Regions from separate parts of the Homo sapiens genome. Here regions 2 and 3 are each reported to be linked to region 1. Evidence: microRNA targets listed by miRTarBase, many of them from high-throughput screens and not tested one by one. Region 1 holds a microRNA gene; each other region holds the end of a gene's coding sequence.
What was found. The annotated mature microRNA hsa-miR-1321 reads CAGGGAGGUGAAUGUGAU and lies in region 1 at 1,930-1,947, opposite strand. An mRNA with a match to its seed (bases 2 to 7 or 8) in the 3' UTR can be bound and repressed. Matches are read on the target gene's strand: a 7mer-m8 pairs with bases 2 to 8, a 7mer-A1 pairs with bases 2 to 7 and ends in A, and an 8mer does both.

Region 2: the mRNA of SENP2 is a reported target of hsa-miR-1321. Seed matches in the 3' UTR shown: 7mer-A1 at 1,606-1,612, 7mer-m8 at 1,923-1,929, 7mer-m8 at 1,927-1,933, 7mer-m8 at 1,944-1,950, 7mer-m8 at 1,948-1,954, 7mer-m8 at 1,959-1,965 and 5 more.
Region 3: miRTarBase lists TMEM138 as a target of hsa-miR-1321. Seed matches in the 3' UTR shown: 7mer-m8 at 3,495-3,501.

Annotation. Positions count from the first base shown.
Region 1 is chrX:85,833,536-85,837,778 of GRCh38, reverse strand. MIR1321 (microRNA 1321) reads right to left here and starts at 1,999; the gene lies at 1,921-1,999.
Region 2 is chr3:185,629,524-185,633,766 of GRCh38, forward strand. It overlaps SENP2 (SUMO specific peptidase 2), which reads left to right. Exons shown (of 17, transcript NM_021627.3): 17 at 259-4,028. The coding sequence ends at 321. Among named protein-coding and RNA genes, the nearest start is that of SENP2, 45 kb to the left of the region's middle.
Region 3 is chr11:61,368,116-61,372,358 of GRCh38, reverse strand. It overlaps TMEM138 (transmembrane protein 138), which reads right to left. Exons shown (of 5, transcript NM_016464.5): 5 at 2,850-3,762. The coding sequence ends at 3,650. Among named protein-coding and RNA genes, the nearest start is that of TMEM138, 7.9 kb to the right of the region's middle. RefSeq lists an enhancer at 2,328-2,587.

The sequences.
Region 1 (4,243 bases):
AATTTATTTGGGGGATTTATGTGAGATAGAAATCTAACATAAAATTTCATATATGAATATCCAATTTTCCTCATGCCATTTTTTGAGATCATCTTTTTCACACTAATCTGAAATATTACCATTATCAATTATTAAATTCTTATACATGAAATCTGTTTCTGGACTATATTCAATGTTATTGCTATTTTGTCAATTCCTATACTAAGATGATGTTATTTTAATTACTGTAACTTTCGAACACGTATTGATACCTGGTAGAGTCAGCCTTTCTGCCTCATTTTTTTTTTTGTCTTAGTTATGCTTGGCCCTTTGCTCTTTCATATACATTTCGGAATCATTTTGTCAAGTTCCACACACATACACACGCAAATCCTTGTTGCAAGTTTGATTGGAATTGCATTCAATATTACTTCACTTTCCCATCCATGAATGGGAGGGTATATCACTCATTTTATTTAATTTTTTACTATGTTTTCTAAATAATATTATACCTTTTGGCAGACACTGATAGTGTCCACCAAATATCCATGTTCAGATCCGCATTTCCCACTCTACTTTGAAGATAAGTTCAGGTAGCTGGGCAGTTAAGAGCCAGTTTGCCTCTTGCATTCCTTTTTCTCCTTTCTATAACTAACTAGTAGTCCAGATGGCATTGCCACAGTTTGGAAGCTTCCAGGAATCTTGAGTCAGCTCTTAAAGGGAAGCTGTGCCAGAGAGCCACCTGACTCACATTAACTGTAACTGGAGCAAGAAATAAATTGGTGTTGTGTTACAACATGGCTATTTCAGGGATTATGTGTTACCACAGCATAGCGAACATTACCTGACTAATTAAAAAGTCTTGACCATCTTTTATGTATTCCAAGGCATCATATACTGTTTCTTAAACTTTTCTTTTATAATAATTTGCTGTTGATGTATAGGAAAAAAATTAACGTTATATGTTGATCTTGTAGCTAATAACCTTGCTAAACTCTCTTACTAATAATATATCTATAATTCTTTTTAGTTTTCTATGTTGATAATTATATAATCTGTGATCAATGACAGTTTTATTTTTCCTTTTCAATCCTATACATTTTAACTCTTTATCTTGTCTTACTGAACTGCCAAGGACCTCCAATACAATGCTAAACAGAAGTGGTGATACTAGACATACTTCTAATTTTCCTGGCTGTGAAAAAGGTAAGGTTAAAACAGTTCACCGTTAGTGTATGTTTATTGTAGGTTTTATTAAGTTAAGGGAGCTGACTTCTATTTCTAGTTTGCTAAGGAGCTTTTATCATGAATGGGTCTAGAATTTTGACCAAAGCCTTTTCCGCATCTATTTATTGACTGCCTACTATGGGCTAAGCACTGATCATGTTTTTCACTCCTTTCATCTATTAATGTAATAAACCATATTAATAGTTTTTAAATGTTAAATCATCCTTAAATTTCTCCTGGTGACATAGATGCTCCCACCTCTGGGTTCATTGTAAGCCTGTGTGTGTTGCCAGTGCATAGCATAGCTGCTGGCATAATATAGGCAAAATGTTTTACTCATGTTCCTTATTATTTTACTTAATAAATGATATATTTTATTACTGTATTTGTAATATTTCCAGTAGCAGAATACTATAAAACACATATCTTAAATAAATTTGAGTTAGAATAAGGCAGACATGCTCAACCAATCCCAAGAATCATATTGTATATTGTTCCACAAGAAGAGCTAAGAAAAAAATATTTAGTGATTAGAAAAATTATATCACTATCTCAGGTGGTTTTCTTAATTTCTTCATTATACGGTTTTAAGTGGGATTTTAGATTTCATTAATATAAACTCATAGGGAGCAATAAATAGTGGGAAGAAGAGAGATTTGAAGTCAGACAGACTTAGGCTTGAATCCTGTCTCTTTAACTTTCTTAACTATATATCTATCTTTGATCACATTCACCTCCCTGAGTTTATTTCCTTATTTGTAAAACAGGGATAATAATACTTGCTTCATAATGTTGCTATATTTGCATTAAGTAATCAAAAAATAATATAAAATATCTAGCATATTGTGGACCTTAAATAAATGTTAGTTCAAAAATGAGTATGAATAAATGAATATACATTTTTTCCTCAGAAAAATTTAATATGTCGAGAATTCTAAAAATAAAAAATCTATGAATGAGGTGTGCCCAGCTTTACACATCTCTGAATAAATTGGGGTTCTTTGTTTTGACTGTTTATCGGTGGTTGATAATTGTTCCCATTTAGAAATATATTATTAATGTCACAATGCAACAATTTGTGAAATTTATGTTATTAGTCTATATATTCTTACCTTTGGAACTACTGTTAATCCCAAATAGGTATCACGGCTCTATTTTTAAACATTTATATAACAAAACTATCAGTAAATATTATTCAGGGTTTAATTACGTTACTCTACTTTTTTCCTCCAAATAAATAGTTATTCTAATCCACTATATGTTCAGACATTCTCTCTCTCTCTCTCTCTCTCTCTCTTCCCTCCCCCTCTTCTTCTCTCTTGTTCATTTTTGAAGTAATAGAATTATCATTTTGGGGGAGAAACTTGATGTTCTCAAATGTGTTTGGAATAATAATGTTCTAATAAATAAATTTGAGTTTCCCAAACTTTTACATGAGAGTAAAGCACTAGAACCAAGGTCTCTATAGAGAAGAAGAAGCAAAAAGGGGAGAGTGTAGAGAAAGGATGAAAAAAGAAAAGGAGGAGAAGAGGGAGGAGGAGGAGCAAGGTTTCAATTAAGTAACTCAAGTGTAATGTGTGCCCCTCTCAGTTTCCTGTCTGCTGCCAAATCTAGGGAGTTGCTAAACTTCAGTGGTCTACCCCTGAAAATTTTTATTATTAGAGCCATCATTTTCAGTGAGTGGAATGAGGTTAGAAGCTATGTGGTCTCTATATTACTTGGAAAATATATCATTTGGCACTCCTCAATGACATTAGACTGTACATTTCTAGATTGATCTGCACAGTTCTTGTCAATTGGTAGGGATTCAATCTATGTTGAGTTAAACCAACTGAGATAAACTGCATTAAACCCTTTAATTTTACATAACACACCCACCACAGAAAAAATTTAATGGTAGTCCTTATCCCCAAATAATTTTCAAAACAAAGCAATAACAAAAACAGTCACTGAAGGGTAACTTATTGAAGGTATGAGAAGTTTTCATTGAAAATGCTCCCAAGTGACAGGCTTACAGTTCATAAATAAAGATGACAATGCAATGGCCCAGTATTTTAAAATCTTAAACACTTTTTTAGTGAAGGCCTGTGAGGTCATGTGAGCTAATATGACAGACACTGAATATTTACTACTCAAAAGCCATTCAGAATCCACTTCTCCCTTGCCTTCATCTACTATGGACGCTGTCTCACATGCAGATAAGAGTGATTATGTGACATGAAAGTAGCCAATACTGAGTATTCTTTGCCCCCAGTTGCAATTTCCTTTGGTGATATGAAAAATGTTTCTAGGTTCATTGTAATATATTAGCACAAAGTTCTTGTCTTGTTTGTTCCTGGAAAAAGTCTTTACAGTCCGTAAGTGCTGTTTTCCAAATTGTTCCCTGTAAGCAAATCAAAGAAAGCCAATCAAAATGACAATGTACATACTTTAATGTTAAATACAAAAAATCAGAATAAAAAATTATTAGTATATATCTCCTGATTTTGTTCACATACACATGAGCAAAGAAAAAATACTTGATGGAAATGAGGCTTATAGGAAACATATTAAAGTAGTAAACTCAAGGTAGGATTTGAAGTGATTTTTATTTTGTTAATTAGAAAATTTTTAATTGAAAAATAATTATATATATTTACGGAGTACAATGTGATGTTTTGATATATGCACACATTATGCAATGTTGAAATCAAGCTGATTCCTATATTTGTCACCTCATCTTAACTTTTTTTTTTGTGGTGTGTATTAGTCCATTCTCATGTTGCTGCAAAGATACTATGCAAGACCGGGTAATTATAAAGGAAAGAGGTTTAATTGACTCACAGTTTAGCATGGCTGGGGAGGCCTCAGGAAACTCACAGTTGTGGTGAAAGGGGAAGCAAACACGTCCTTCTTCACAGGGCTGCAGGAAGGAGAATGAAATGAGTGCCCAGTGAACAGGGAATCCCCTTATAAAACCATCGGATCTCGTGAGAACTAAGTCATTATCAGGAGAACAGGATGAGGGAAACCGCCCCCATGATTCAATTATCTCTGT
Region 2 (4,243 bases), not on the chromosome of region 1:
GCAGATCGCGCCACTGCACTCCAGCCTGGGTGACACAGCAAGACTCCATCTCAAAAAAAAAAAAAAAGTGCTTATGGTACATATCATGTAATTATGAACTGTTAAAAATGGTTTTATAAGTATGTTCCATGATGTAAAAATGTCAACACTTAGAAAAAGCACATGGACATCCTGCTTTATTACATGATTACACCTGAAGGTTGTGCTGCCATGCACATTAATATGTAATGCGGGCGTTGTTTATGGGGTTCTTTGCAGCACCAGATGCCTCTCTTCCGGAAGAAGATGGTGTGGGAAATCCTTCATCAGCAGTTGCTGTGAGAAAACTTTGCCTGGTCCCTCTAGCTGCTGGTGGTTCTTTCACAGACATTTCCATATACCTCATGCATTGTGGGTTAAAAAGTCCCTGCATCACTTCTGTTCTCACAGGTACTGAGCTGTCAAAAGTGCATGAAGGCCTCTCACTGTACTCTAGTCCTGACTTGGGGTGCAGAGGGCTGCTTGCAATCCTGTTTGTAAGGCTGTGCCTGCTCAGAGCTTTGGACTGTTCAACCCACACAAGAACAAACGCTAACTAATATTTTTTTTAAGAGATTCTTTTCCCTATGAATGTGGGAAATGCAGGATTTATTCTGTGAATTGTTTGTTTCTGTGTGTTTGTTCAGCGTATTCATTCACTCACTCGTTTGCAAACATAATGGGCAGTGGTCATTTACTGCTGCTCTTTTACAGTTAGCTCTAAATTACTTGTTTGAACTATTTATTTCTGAAAGGAATGTTACTCAAGCTGCCACTCCCTGCTGAAGAGCAGGAGGGAACTCTCACTGGGGGCGGAAGGAAGTGGAGCTGGAGCAGTAACTGCCAACATGAAGCTGGAGGGTTTGGGATTTTTTTTGTTTTTGTTTTTTTGAGGCTCAAAAAATGCTGGGAGAAATGAAAATGCTGTGGGATAGGGCTCCTGTTGCCTTTCAGAGGAAGTCTGACACTACAGCGTTGGCACAGTGCCGTGAACAGTGGAACTGTGCCCAAGGGACTCTGATTATCCAAGCATCTTCCGAAGAGTGTTGTGGTCACCTTAAAGAGACTTCCCCTTCTGGAAATGTGGTGACTTGGCTTAGTCTTCAAACTGGATTCATGGATTTGAAGTAACTGTAAACCCTAAATCTTCATTTTCATCCCAGATCTGGTTGAGTATAAACCTCAGAATTGTAGGGGCTGGCCTGAGCTGTTTATTTCAAAAGATACTATTCAATTTAAAGCTATTTTTCCTCAGAGTTTTTGTTTTCTATATATTAAGTCTAAATTAAGTTTTCTACTCATTAAGACTAACATCTCCCCACTCCATCCCCACTGAAATTTGTGGAAGAAAATTTAGTACTTGGCTCTGAGGTTGCCAGTTATACAATAATCTATTTTGCATATGAAAGTTTGTATTTAACTTTTTTGTTCATTAAAAACCTTACTGATATGGTTATAACTTCAGACAGTTTAGAGTTGGTCAGAACATATTTTGCAAGATCTAGTGCCTAGTGTTGCTTTTCTGATGTAATAAAAGGTGGTCTGGCAGAACCTAAAAAAGTATATGCTGAAATGATTTCTAACCCTCTCCCTACTTAAACCTCCCAGACTTGTTCTGGTTCATAAAAGCAAGAGGTAAAACTGGAAAAATTGTGCACGTGTTACCTATGAATCTACACGCCTGCCATTTGCAGTGCTCCGGCTGCTGGTCCCAGAGGTATACTGGTTACAGCTATTGCAGCCAGTTCCCTGAGACTTGTAAAACTCCTGGTTTAGGACATGGGGCCTGTGGTGTGGATGGAAAATGCTGGGCCTACTGGATGGTCAGCCAGAGGCCATGTGGTGGGTGATGACTGAAGCGGGAGCAGGTTGTACCACACCTCTCCCCCCCCCCTCCCACTCCCCCTCCCTCCCTCTCCCCTCCCCCTCCCTCCCTCCCCCCTCCCTCCCTCCCCCCCCTCCCCCTCCCTCCCCCTCCCTCTCTCCCTAACACCCACCCTCCCCCTTTCCCCCACCCTCCCCCCTTCTCCCCTTTCCCCACCCTCCCTCCCCCCTTCCCCCTCCCCCCCCCCCCCCCGCAGCCCCTGCTCCTTTCTCTGGGCTCCTGGCATTGTGCCAGTGAGTGCTGGGACCAGGTAATGAGCACAGCCAAAAAGGCCAGAGGTTCACTAGGTCAGCATCATACCAAACGCCTGGCTTTCACCAGGCATCAGTGTGCTTCACTTGAGAGTTTGGTACCATGGTTAAGATCGAGTCCATGCTAGGTAAGTCCTGTTAGGAATGTCAGTTTGTATTCCGCCCACGTGAATGATGCTGAGCTTAATGTATTATTTTGAGGGGCTTCTTCAGAGCAGTTCTCACTGAGCTTTCCATTAACCTACACTCTTCCGGACGGCTCTTAAAACTTGCAGGACATAATGAAATTGGGAAGAGCAGAGTGTTGAAGTCTATAGCATGGCCTTCTGCTTGACCCTGAGTTCCTGAATTGAATGTGGGAGACCACAGGCCATACTTCTCTAGGCACTCACATGTCTCCCTTGGCATAAGGAAACATGTTAGTAATATAGTTTTTTAGATCCAAACAGTTTATTTGGATCTAAAAGTTTAAGTGTTCAGTTGAAAAACAGCTATTGATTTTATTAGTAGCAAATTATCACCATTAAAGCCAGTGGTTTTTTTTTTGTTTTTTTTTTTTGTTTTTTTTTTTTTTTTTTGCGACAGAGTCTCTTGTCGCCCAGGCTGGAGTACAATGGTGTGATCTCAGCTCACTGCAACCTCCGCCTCCCAGGTTCAAGCGATTCTCCTGCCTCAGCCTCCTGCGTAGCTGGGATTACAGGTGCCCACCACCACACCCTGCTAATTTTTGTACTTTTAGTAGAGATGGGGTTTCGCCATGTTGGCCAGGCTGGTCTTGAACTGCTGACCTCAGGTGATCCACCCGCCTCGGCCTCCCAAAGTGCTGGTATTACAGTCATGAGCCACCTCACCCAGCCTGTTTTTGAGACGGAGTTTCACTTTTGTCGCCCAGGCTGGAGTGCAATGGCGCTATCTCAGCTCACTGCAACCCCCACCTCCCAGGTTCAAGCGATTCTCCTGCCTCAGCCTCCCGAGTAGCTGGGATTACAGGCATGTGCCACCACCCCTGGCTAATTTTGTATTTTTAGTGGAGACGGGGTTTCTCCATGTTGGTCAGGCTGGTCTTAAACTCCCGACCTCAAGTGATCTGCCCGCCTCGGCCTCCCAAAGTGCTGGGATTACAGGCGTGAGCCATTGCACCTGTCCCTGCCAGTGTGTTTTTAAAATAGTTTAGGGGGTTGAGAAAAGATGCAGTGAGCCATTATTCTCCTTTAGCAGGTAGTCTCTTAAAAATTGATGTGGATTTTAAAAATATACCATTGAGAACACGTATCTTTCTCAAACTTGACCTTGAACAGAGCTGGATGGGGGTGGGAGGGAAACAGATTTGGGGCATATGGAAGATATTCTTGGGAGCCCCATATTCTACCTCAGTTACCGAAGGCTATTAGAACCTCTGAATTTTTCCTCCTCTGAAATCCTAAGCACAACTTCAGAAAACCATGTCTGATAGCGGATGTCTTCCTGCTGTGAGGAGCTGCTTGATGTGGGGACCAAGGTGTGGGTGTGGGCGGAATGTATCCTAGTAGAAACAGTGAACCTCAGATATGAATAAATAAGCAAGAGACCGAAAGTTAAGTGTGTGACAACCTCAGTACTGTAGTTAAGCTACATTCTTTAAATTAGCTTTTGTGAACTGATTGGGAACCTAATCTCTTTTGTAACTGTTTGAGAAAAACTCTGAAGCACCTGATATTCAAACAAACTTATGGTACTTACTAACTCATTTGTAAATTGGCGATGTAGCTGGCTGTAGTATTGCTTTGATAATTTTTTTCTTTTAATTTACCTAATATATATAAGGAAGGGGTTTGGATATATTAAAATAGGTGTTAATTTTATCTATTTACCAATAAATTCATCTCTTTAATTCAGTGGCTTTCACTTGTTTTTTATTGCAACTCATAGGAATAAGTATTTTATGTTGTGACCACACACACACACACACACAGTGTGATTGTATATGGACACAAACAACATTGCACATACACTTTTGTGAAGTAATACATATCCTTACTATGATGATAGTTTTATTTCAGTTTTTAAAAACATTTAGGTTGTAACCACCAAGTTGATTTCTCTGCCCACT
Region 3 (4,243 bases), not on the chromosome of region 1:
TTGCACTCCAGCCTGGGAGACAGAGTGAGACTCCATCTCAAAAACAAAACAAAACCAAGAACCTTGCCTTCTATACCCTCTCATGATCTTAACTGCAAACATTTCTGTGGACTTCAACACTTTAGGTAGAATTGAATACTTCAATTCTTTAGGCAGAATTTAACTTTTTTTTTTTTTTTTTCTGAGACAGAGTCTTGCTCTGTTGCCCAGGCTGGAGGGCAGTGGTACAATCTTGGCTCACTGCAACCTCTGCCTCCCAGGTTCAAGCAATTCTCCTGCCTCAGCCTCCTGAGTAGCTGGGATTACACGCATGTGCCACCACACCTGCCTAATTTTTGTATTCTTAGCAGAGACAGGGTTTCACCACGTTGGCCAGGCTGGTCCTGAACTCTTGACCTCGTGATCCACCCCACCTCGACCTCCCAAAGTGCTGGGATTACAGGTGTGAGCCACTGTGCCCGGCCCAAATTTAACCCTTTCAACCAGTTGCCAATCAGAAATCTTTAAATCCACCTGACTTGCAAGGCTTCCCCTTTTGAGATGTCCTGCCTTTCTGGGCAAAATCAATGTACACCTTGCGTCTATTGATTTATGTCTCTGATTGTAACTTCTGTCCCCCTAAAATACATAAAATCAAGCTGTAACCCAACCATCTTGGGCACGTGTTCTCAGGACCTCCTGGGGCTTTGTCATGGATTATTGTCCTCACATTGGCTCAGAATAATACATCTCTTCAAGTATTTTAGAGTTCGGCTTTCTTTTTCATCAATACAAGCATCATCAGTGTGAAATCTAACAAACTCTTACTTTAGGAGCTAGACTTAGATTGCAGGCAGACCTGAAGTAAGAATTGGCATGTCCTTGTTTTATAGGACATCTTGAAAGGGTTCAAAGCCAGCACAGAACAATTTCTGAGGGCAGTCATCTAAGGATGCCTGAGGCTTTTTTCCTTTCCCTGGGGGTGTGGGGTCGGCCTAAGGCATAATGCTTTGACAAAAGGCTGTGAAGTAACAGAAATTCATTTGGGGCTGGGAATGGTGGCTCAGTCCTGTAATCCCAGCACTTTGGGAGGCCGAGGGGGGCAGATCACAAGGTCAGGAGATCGAGACCATCCTGGCCAACATGGTGAAGTCCCATCTCTACTAAAAATACAAAAATTAGCTGGGCGTGGCGGCACGTGCCTATAATCCCAGCTACTGGGAAGGCTGAGGCAGGAGAATCACTTGAACCCAGGAGGCGGAAGTTGTAGTGAGCTGAGATCGCACCACTGCACACCAGCCTGGTGACAGAGCTAGACTCCATCTCAAAATAAAATAAAATAAATTCATTTATTTGGGAGAGGGGGGCGGTGTTGCGTGACTCAGTCTCCAGGCTTAACTTTCCCTTTGGCATAATGAGTTTGGGGGTCCTGAGATGTTTGGGGGCCCCCAGCTGAGGTCACTGCAGGCTAGCCAACTGCCAATGGATCCCAAGGCCATCACAGCTGCCTAGCTGACCTGCAGCTGACACATGAGCGAGCCCAGCTGAAACCACCCACACTTTCCCGTTTCCTATGTATCCTATAGTCTATGGAAGCTTTCATGCTTCAGTGTCGTGGTTAAGTGGTTGTACCCTCAAGACCTCGAATATTTACTATCTGACCCTTCTTAAAAAAAGCTTGGCGACCCTGCCAAAGCATCTCTGAAGAACAAGTTTCACAGAGCAGCTCTCTGGTGTGAGAGACTGGGTGAATTAATGGCCCCCATTCTTTACTCTCTCTGTATCCATGCCTTTGCCCTTGAAAATTTGTAGTGCTTTTGAGACAGAGTAGAGACAGGGTGTGGCTTCAGCTCACCCCCACTACAGCATCCTTTCATGCATCCCCACTGACCACAAAACCCACCCCTCTACCTTGCTGATGTATCCACTATCATCAACGCTTTAGTCATACAAAGAAAATCGCCATTTTGTATTCATCTTCTGTGCTCTCACAATGTTTAACCAGGCCTTTTACTTAAAGAATTCCAGGAACTGGCCTTAGGAGGTCCAAAATATCAAACCAACATTGTGTGTGGACTGTCCCTCCTCAGGAAAGAATACAGATTTGCTGCCATTGGCTAGACTACCTGGTGGTCCATTATTCAAGATAACCCTTACAACCAGATGCTGACCTGCACACCCTACCCTCACGTGCTTTGTCCAGCCCAGCCTGCCTACCCTACCCGAGGTCAATTCCAGTGCTTTGCCTAAGAGAAAAATCCCTGCAGGCTTTGTTTGGAGTCAGTCAGGGAACTCTCTCTTTGACTTGTGTTGTGTCTCTTATGCCCAGGCATAAGCTCCAATGAAGCCTTGTCGGCAAATTCTTTTAGCCTCATGTCAATTTCTATAGCAATGAGAGTCTAAGAACTTGTGGTTGGTAACCGTTTGCCACTTTGTTTCTGGGCTTAGTTGCGTGACTTGCCTTGATCAACAGGAGTCTAGGAGACACAAGACAAGCACAGGCTTGAAATGGGGTTGCATACTGGGACTTTCCCGCTCTGCCACTGGCGTGTGAGCAGATCCAGGCTAGTCTGTGGGAAGTAAATCTGCAAACTAGAGCTGAGTAACCACAGTCACTCCAGCTGAGGTCAATGAAGGCTAGCCAACTGCCAGTGGATCCCAAGGCCATCGCAGCTGCCTAGCTGACCTGCAGCTGACAGACACAAGAGTGAGCCCAGATGAAACCACCCACACACAGCCTTGATCAGCTGAACCCCAAGACAAAGAGCCAGGCAGCTGTTGATTGCTGTATGCCCCTGAACTTTGGTGGTGGAGTTACACAATATTCTGGCAATAGAAAACTGATACTACGGACATAAGAATTTTAAAAATTTCTTTTGCCAAAGCTGGCTAAGGGAATATTTTTATTCTTCTGAGGGCAGTTAAGGCTTCTGATAAGGAAAGAGAGTCTGAACAGAGCACACACATCTGGAGCTCCAGGAGTGGGGGATGCAGCATCAGATTCCATCTTGAATTTCTGCTAAAATACTTTGTACTCATAATGGATCTCAACAAAGATCTGTATTTCATCTGTGGCTCCATCTTCCCTCTGGGTCAAGTAGATGTTAAGCTGGACCTTGGCACGCCTCTTAACATGAAGAGATCTAGCTAGACAGACAGACTCCCCCATTTATGGAACAAGAATTCAATTTATTCTCTATTTATAAAACATTTTTTTAAAGTGCCTTGGGTATAAAAATCTAAATGTCTGCGGTGTGATCAGTCAGGAGCACGTAACTATCACTCTTCGCATCCTTTGGTCACTGGGAGATCCTTTGGGGGCTGGGAGGTCCTTCTGTCCCAGGCTAAAGGAAAAGCTTCACAAGGGTAAGAGCCACAGAACCCTCGGCAAGAAAGGCCGGTCAGGGAGAATGAATGGTACAGAGAGGAAAGGAAGGAAAGGGGGTGGAACAGAGGTAGAAGGCAAGGAAGGGATGCCGCACTGGAGACCGATGGGGACACTCTAATTGTGCAAGAGGGAGGATCTTCCTTCTTGAATGCTGAACACAGCTAGTCTGAACCTTCCTTGGAAAGTCCAGCTGTTTGCCCATGCATAGGGCCAACTCTCCCTGCAAAGCAGCAAATGTGGCTTCTATCAGGAAGGAAAAGTATCCATCAGTGTGACAAGAGGTCACCTTCGAACTTGCATGAACTCCTTGCGCAGCCACAAAGAGTCCTGGTAGAAGTGAGGATCGCCTAGTCTTACGGCTGTCCGTTTATAGAAGTAGCAGTACAACACTGCTGCTGTGGGGAGGAAGCAGAAGAGAAGCCTCAGGGGTGCTCCTGAGTATCATTTCAGGTTAAGAACAGAACCTGGCCAGGCGTGGTGGCTCACGCCTGTAATCCCAGCACTTTAGGAGGCAGAGGCAGGCGGATCATGAGGTCAGAGATCGAGACCATCCTGGCTAACACGGTGAAACCCTGTCTCTACTAAAAATACACAAAAAATTAGCTGGGCGTGGTGGCGGGCGCCTGTAGTCCCAGCTACTCCGGAGGCTGAGGCAGGAGAATGGTGTGAACCCGGGAGGCGGAGCTTGCAGTGAGCCTGAGATAGCGCCACAGCACTCCAGCCTGGGCGACAGAGCAAGACTGTCTCAAAAACAAACAAACAAACAAACAAACAAACAAAAAGAACAGAACCTAATGAGGCTGGGCAGCCCTGCCTCCTCATTTCCCATAGTCTTCTAGCAAGGGCAGGGGCAGTAATCCCTCCTGTTCCTGGTGT